2 linked regions of the Homo sapiens genome follow. Changing the gene in region 1 together with any one later gene gives a genetic interaction. Each region holds a gene or a part of one and is shown in the gene's direction. Other genes may lie near its edges. The genes, in order: DBF4 and ATR.

The links.
Region 2: changes in DBF4 (region 1) and ATR are lethal when combined (synthetic lethality), as found in Homo sapiens cells (one large-scale study listed by BioGRID).

What each region holds. Positions count from the first base shown.
Region 1 is NC_000007.14:87,896,823-87,900,648, forward strand, and holds part of DBF4 (protein DBF4 homolog A), read left to right. Parts: intron 1-471; coding exon 472-517; intron 518-3,398; coding exon 3,399-3,527; intron 3,528-3,826. UniProt on the Homo sapiens protein: Regulatory subunit for CDC7 which activates its kinase activity thereby playing a central role in DNA replication and cell proliferation. Required for progression of S phase.
Region 2 is NC_000003.12:142,453,101-142,456,926, reverse strand, and holds part of ATR (serine/threonine-protein kinase ATR), read left to right. Parts: intron 1-3,693; coding exon 3,694-3,799; coding exon of another isoform or gene 3,800-3,826. UniProt on the Homo sapiens protein: Serine/threonine protein kinase which activates checkpoint signaling upon genotoxic stresses such as ionizing radiation (IR), ultraviolet light (UV), or DNA replication stalling, thereby acting as a DNA damage sensor.

The sequences.
Region 1 (3,826 bases):
AGTGAATCTAATTGCCACTTCATTTTGAATTGATAAGCGTAAACAATGCTTTGAGATATCTGCTCAAGCAGTTCATAACTGATGAAAATATGTGCAGTTTCTATTAGCATCAAAGTCGCAGGTACTGCGAATAGTGTGATTTGTTACATTTATAATTGAAGGAAATGCTAAATTTCAGTTTGAGGTTAGTGAAGACAATAGTGTAGTTTTTCTCCTGTTCTAATTTATGACCTTCCTGAATCCTGTTAATTTGAGGGTTCCATTTAGTTTAAGAATCTCAGAATATAGGAGAGAGCTTCTGTTATTTTTGGAAATGAGGTGATAATGGAAGTACCTCATCTGAGGCTTAAAACTTTAAAGTGGATACATAGTTTTTTGTTTGGAGGGTTTTGTTTTGCCACAGTAGTTTTATTAAAAAAAAAAAAGAATCCTGAATTTGCAAGTATCTAATATGTTTTCTATGTTCTCAAGCAGGAAGACTCAAAAAGCCTTTTGTAAAGGTGGAAGATATGAGCCAGTAAGTATTTAAGTCCAATCTGTATGATTTAAGTGCAATACTAAAGAGGAAAATCACCTAACTAATTAGGCTAGCTCGATTAGTACTGTTAGGTTCCTTTGTGTTTGATTTATATTATACTAATGTGCATGCGGCACAAGTTAACGAAAGTAGCATTAATTCATTTGTGCTCAAGGACTGAATTTAGTTTCAGTATGTTGTAGATATTCCTGAAATAGCTGGTTTAGAAAAATCATGACACCGTTTTTTTAGTATTTAAATTATTCTCTGGCTAAATGCAGTACCAAATGATTTAGAACTACTGAAAGATTACGCCTTCATTTGCGAAAAAGAAATTATTAGATGCTATTTAGAAACAGAAAATCTAAGTATAACATCTAACATGGTTGATTTCCAAAATTCTGAAGTATTGTAGGATAGTCTTGTTGTTGTTGTTGTTTGTTTTGATTTTTTGAGATGGAGTCTTGCTCTGTCACCCAGGCTAGAGTGCAGTGGCACGATCTCGGCTCACTGCAACGTCCACCCCACCCCCGGTTCAAGCAATTCTCCTGCCTCAGCCTCCCAAGTAGCTGGGATTATGGGTCTACGCCACCATGCCCAGCTGATGTTTGTATTTTTAGTAGAGATGGGGTTTCACCATGTTGGCCAGGCTAGTCTCTAACTCTTGACCTCAAGTGATCCGCCTGCCTCAGCCTCCCAAAGTGCGGGGATTACAGGCGTGAGCCACTGTGCCCAGCCATGTGGGATAATCTTAATGAAGACCACAGATATAAATAGGCCTGCCATGAGAGAATTAGATTACTTTCTTTTTTCTTTCCACTTATTCATTTAGACATCTGTGGTTAATTCTCTTGGGTACTCACACTGAGGCGACAAAAGTGTATTGAAAACTGCTTTTTATGAAATGTGTTGCTGTGAAGAAAAAAGTGCAATTCAAAAGGAGGCCTAGAAAAGACACTAGTATACGAAAGGACATCCCATGTTCATGAATTGGAAGATATAATATTGTTAAGATGTTAATACCACCCAAAGTGATCTACAGATTCACTGCAATCCCTATCAAAATCCCAATGATGTTTTTTGCAGAAATAGTAAAAACGTATCCTAGAATTCATACGGAATTGTAACAGATGCAGGAAACCCAAGACAATCATTAAAAATAACAACAAAGGCCAGGCGCGGTGGCTCACTCCTGTAATCCTAGCACTTTGGGAGGCCGAGGCAGGCAGATCACGAGTTCAGGAGATGGAGACCATCCTGGCTAATACGGTGAAACCCTGTCTCTACTAAAAATATAAAAAATTAGCCGGGCCTGGTGGCGGGCACCTGTAGTCCCAGCTACTCAGGAGGCTGAGGCAGGAGAATGGCGTGAACCCGGGAGGCAGAGCTTGCAGTGAGCCGAGATCACGCCACTACACTTCAGCCTGGGGGACAGAGCAAGACTCCGTCTCAAAAAAAAAAAAAAAAAAGAACAACAAAGTAAGAGGTCTCACACTTTCTGGTTTTAAAACTTACTGTAATGCTACAGAAATCAGAACAATTTGGCATTGGAATAAAGACATATAAACGAATGGAATAGAATAGAGAGCCTAGAAATAAACCATCACACATATGGCCAAATGATTTTCAACAAGGGTATGAAGATAATTTAATGGAGAAAGGACAGTCTTTTTTAACAGTGTTGAGAAAACTAGATATACACATGCAAAAGAATGGCATTAGACTCCTACCTCACATCATGTTCAAAAATTAACTCAAAATGGACCAAAGACCTAAAATGGTAAAACTCTTGGAGAGAACACAGGGGAAAAGCTTCATGACATTGGATTTGCAGTGCTTTCCTGGACGTGACACCAAAAACACAGATTACAAAAGATAAAATAATTAAATTGGACCATATCAAAAATATAAATTTCTGTGCCTAAAGGGATATAACAGTAAAAAGGCAACCGAAAGGATGGAAGAAGATACTGCAAGTCATGTATCTATTTCTTTTTTTCAGCTTTCTCAGGTTGAACAAGTCATATATCTAATAAATGTTAATATCCAGAATATATTAAGAATTACAAGTCAACAACAAAACAACCCAATTTTAAAAAGGGGCAAAGCGCTGAATAGACATTTTTCCAGAGGTGATACACAAATAGCCAATAAGCATATGAAAAGATGCTCAACATTACTAATCATGAGGGAATTGCAAATCTAAACCACAGTGAGATACCACTTTACATTATTTAGGATGGCTACTATTAAGCAGCCAAAAAGTGAAAGTAATCCAAGTCCATCAGCAAATTAATGGATAAACAGTATGCAGGATGTGTGTGTACACACACTCAATGGAATATTACTCAGCCTTTAAAAGGAATGAAATTCTGACACGTGCAACATGGATAAACCTTTAAGACGTTATGCTAAGTGAAATAAGACAAAAAATACTGCATGATTCCACTCCTGAAGCATCTACGTTAGTCAAACTGATAACAAGAAGTAGAATGGTGGTTGTCAGGGGATATGGAGAAAGGATATTTGGGAAGTTACTGTTTGATGGGTATAGAGTTTCAGTTTTTGCAAGATGAAAATACGTCATCTTACAAAAGATGGACGGTAGCAGTGATGGTACCACAGCATTGTGAATACTTAATGCAACTGAATTGTACACTTAAAATGGTTAAGGTAATAAATTTTATGTGTATTTTACCACAATTTAAAAAATGTTTAAATGTTAAAAATTGTTAGGCCTGAAATTGATTTTTTGAAGGAAAGCCTAAATAATTTGTTATTTCAGATTCCAGCTTAATTATATGATTTTGAAATACAAAACTTTAAACCTTTTTTCTTTAATCATAAAGAATCTCATGTATTTGTCTTTTTATTCTTCTAGACTTTATAGGCCATTTTATCTTCAGCTGACCAATATGCCTTTTATAAATTATTCTATTCAGAAGCCCTGCAGTCCATTTGATGTAGACAAGCCATCTAGTATGCAAAAGCAAACTCAGGTTAAACTAAGGTTGGTTTGAATCTTTACTTTTAGAAGGAATATTCAGAATTTCATCTCAATTTTTCTTTGTAAAGATTTGAAATAGTTTCATTTATGCCATAATGGTTATTTGTGTTTGTAATTACTATTCTGATTACTTTTATAAGTCTGAATCTGTTTAGATGGAGGTGGGGAGGGCCTTAAAATATTTGTGAATAATGAAAATGTGTAGTTTATCTTGAATGATCTGAAATATTCTCCAGAATATTCATTAAATCTTTAGTTTGCTTCTCAATATAGTATAAAGAAATATGATTAAAAGTACTTGC
Region 2 (3,826 bases), on another chromosome or scaffold:
GTTAAATGCTGTACTTAACATTTTGAAGAACTCTCAAATCATTTTCCAAAGCAGTTGTAACACTTTATAATCCCACTAGTAATGTATGTGGGTTTCAACTTCTCTGCATCTTTTCTATCTTTAGATAACATCTTTATCTATCCTGGTTATTGTCTGCCTTTTTTATTTTAGCCATTCTAGGGATGTGAAGTTGTATCTCATTGTGGTTTTAATTTGCACTTCCCTAATGACCAGTGATGGTGAGCATCTTTTCATGTCTTTGTTGGCCATTTGTAGATCATCTTTGGACAAATGTCTATTGAAATCCTTTGCCCACTTTTAAATTGGGTTTTTTTATTCTTTTTTTTTTTCCTTTGAGACAGGGTTTCGCTCTGTCACCCAGTCTGGAGTGCAGTGGCGTGATCTTGGCTCACTGCAACATCTGCCTCCTGGGTTCAAACGATTCTCGTGCCTCAGCTTCCTAAGTAGCTGGGACAGCATGTGTGCATGAGCCACTATGTCTGGCTGATTCTTGCATTTTTAGTAGAGATTGGGTTTTACCACGTTGGCCAGGCTGGTCTTGAACTCCTGACCTCAAGTGATCCTCCCACCTTGGCCTCCCAAAGTGCTGGGATTATAGGCATGAGCCACCATGCCTGGCCTATTCTTGAGTTGCAAGAGTTTGTTTCTTTGTTTGAGACAGAGTCGCCCAGGCTGGAGTGCAGTAACGTGATCTCCACTCACTGCAACCTCCGCTTCGTGGGTTCAAGTGATTTCCCTGCCTCAGCCTCCCCAGCAGAGAAGGGGTTTTGCCATGTTGCCCAGACTGGTCTTGAACTCGTAAGCTCAAGCCATCCACCTTCCTCAGCCTCCCAAAGTGCTGGGATTACAGGCATGAGCCACCCCGCCCAGCCAAGTTGCAAGAGTTCTTTACACATTTTGGATACAAGACCTTTTAAGATATGATTTTCAAATATTTTCTTCCATCTGTGGGTTGTCTCTTCACTTTCTTTGATGATGGCCTTTGAAACATAAAAGTTTTAAATTTTGATGCAGTCTAATTTGTTTTTTTCTTCTGGTTATTTTTGGTGTTTCTGTTGTCATATCTAAGAAACTATTCCCTAATCCAAAGTCATGAAGATTTACACCTATGTGTTCTTCTAAGCATTTTTGACTTTTAGCTCTGCTATTTAAATCTTTTATCTGTCTTCAGTTATTTTGTAGATATGGTGTAAGGTAGGGGTCCATATTCATTTTTTTGCATGTGCATATCCATTAGTCACAGCACCATTTTTTGAAAAGAATATTTTGCCCCTCGTTTAATTATCTTGGCTTTTTTGTTGAAATGGTCAATTGATTTTCAGCAATATTCTGTTGATCTATATGCCTAACCTTATGCTAACAACACAGTGTTTTGATTGTTGTACCTTTGTAGTAAATTTTGAAATCATAAAGTGTGAGTGTTCCAACTTTGCTTTTTTTCCCCCAAGATCATTTAGCTATTATGGGTCCCTTGTATTTCCATATTAATTTTAAAATCAGCTTGGATTTTGATAGGAAGGACATTGAATTTGTAAATCAATTAGGGAGTATTGCTGTCTTAACAATTTGGGAGTATTGCTGTCTTAACCATGTTAAGTCTTCTGATCGATGAACATAGAATGTTTTTCCATTTATTTGAATTTTATTTTTTTCATCAATGTTTTGTGGTTTTTAGGGTCAAGTTTTATATTTAACTTTTAAAAATTGTATTCCTAAGTATTTTATTCCTTTTGATTTTATTCTAAATGGAATTTTTCTTAATTTCATTTTTGGATTGTTCATTGCTAGTGCATAGATATATAATTGATATTTATATATTGATATTGTATCTTACAATCTGCTGAATTCATGTATTAGTTCTAATAATTATTTTTGTGCCTTCCTTAAGATTTTCTCTCCACAATAACATGTCACCTGCAGATACAGTTTTTCTTCTTCCTTTTTAATATCAATGCCTTTTATTTCTTTTTCTTGCCTACTTGCCCTAACTAAATCAGTGTCGAATAGACATGCTAAAAGTGGACATCCTTGTCTTGTTCCTGATCTTAGGGGTAGAGCAGTCAGTCTTTGACTTTTAAGTATGATGTTAGCTGTGGGAAACAGATTGTTTGAAAGGACTTTTAAAGCTTATTTATTCACCTTCATTATTTAAAAGCTGTCTATCGGGCCGGGCGCGGTGGCTCACGCCTGTAATCCCAGCACTTTGGGAGGCCGAGGCGGGCGGATCACGAGGTCAGGAGATCAAGACCATCCTGGCTAACACGGTGAAACCCTGTCTCTACTAAAAATACAAAAAATTAGCCGGGCGAGGTGGCGGGCGCCTGTAGTCCCAGCTACTCGGGAGGCTGAGGCAGGAGAATGGCGTGAACCCCAGGGGGCGGAGCCTGCAGTGAGCCGAGATTGCGCCACTGCACTCCAGCCTGGGCGACAGCGAGACTCCGTCTCAAAAAAAAAAAAAAAAAAAAAAAGCTGTCTATCAGACATTATGGTAGAATACTGGTTAGTTGGACATATGCAAAAGCAAATTCTCTGAAATAGGAAGTATATCATCATGTGGAACAGTTACCAAGAGCCCCTGTGTTAGTCTGGGTCAGTCAAGAAATAATTTCTGGAGGAAGTAGTTGAGACCTTAAAAGTTAATAAAGTTGACCATGCAAGGGAGAAGAGAGTGTTCTGAGTGATAAAAATATCAAGGCAAGTGAAGTCATGGCCTGCCTGAGAAATACAGTATGTATTCCAGAGGGTATACTTCCAGGAGGTGGTGCTAAGAGATGACGCAGGACAGGTAAGCAGGGGCTAGATTATGAAGGTCTCACATGGGGCCTGTTACTACATTATAACTTTGCCTGCAGAGCAACCAGAAGTCATTGAGGATTTTAAGAAGGAATAAAAAGGGGGCAAGGGGTGGAAAGAGATAATCTGATTTGTACTGTAGAAAAAATAGGGTCCTAGTTTGGGCCAACAGCCAGAAAACTAGTTAGAGGTTTATTGCAGTAACCCAGGAAAGGATGATGGTGTACTGGATAGTGTCACGGCCGTAGAGACGGAGATAACTGAAGAGATTCCAAAGAGATTTAGGAGTTGTAATTGCATGTTAGAGGAAGACGGGGTGAGGATGATTCCTAGATTTTTGTCTAGGGCAAATGGGTGGATGATGATTTGGGGAATACAGGAGAAATAGTTGGGAAAAGGTAATTAATTTTATTTTGGAGATACTGAGTTTGAGGTGTTTGGAACATATCCAACTGGGTATTTCCCATAGGTAATTGGATTTGATGTTTAGGGTGCAGAAAAAAGGTCTGGGCTAGGTCTATATGGTAGCTATAGATGTTATATCGTTATTGAAGACATGGTAAGGGATAAAATTCCTTCATTCAAAATATAGTCATTTACCAGTTCACAGTATACACTTAGAGATGGCACATAGAACCCATCTTACTCTATTCTCCAAAACACCTCTGACTCCCCTCTATCTTGCCTTTTTTCCTGCCTTCCCTTCTCTTACCCTCCCCTCACACCAAAACAGAAATTTCACATAACTTAATGAAGACGTAGTAATGTGTATTATAAGAGTATTACCATTAGCTTCTCATCCTTCACTTAAATATTGATGTCAGCAAGATTTCTTCTTGCAAAGATAACATCATACCATAATATTTGTTTCAATTTTAGTGTCTTAAAGACTTTTCTACATGATCCTCTTGTGGAATGGAGTAAACCAGTGAAAGGGCATTCCAAAGCGCCACTGAATGAAACTGGAGAAGTTGTCAATGAAAAGGTTAGTAGAAGGTATAGCTTGATATGG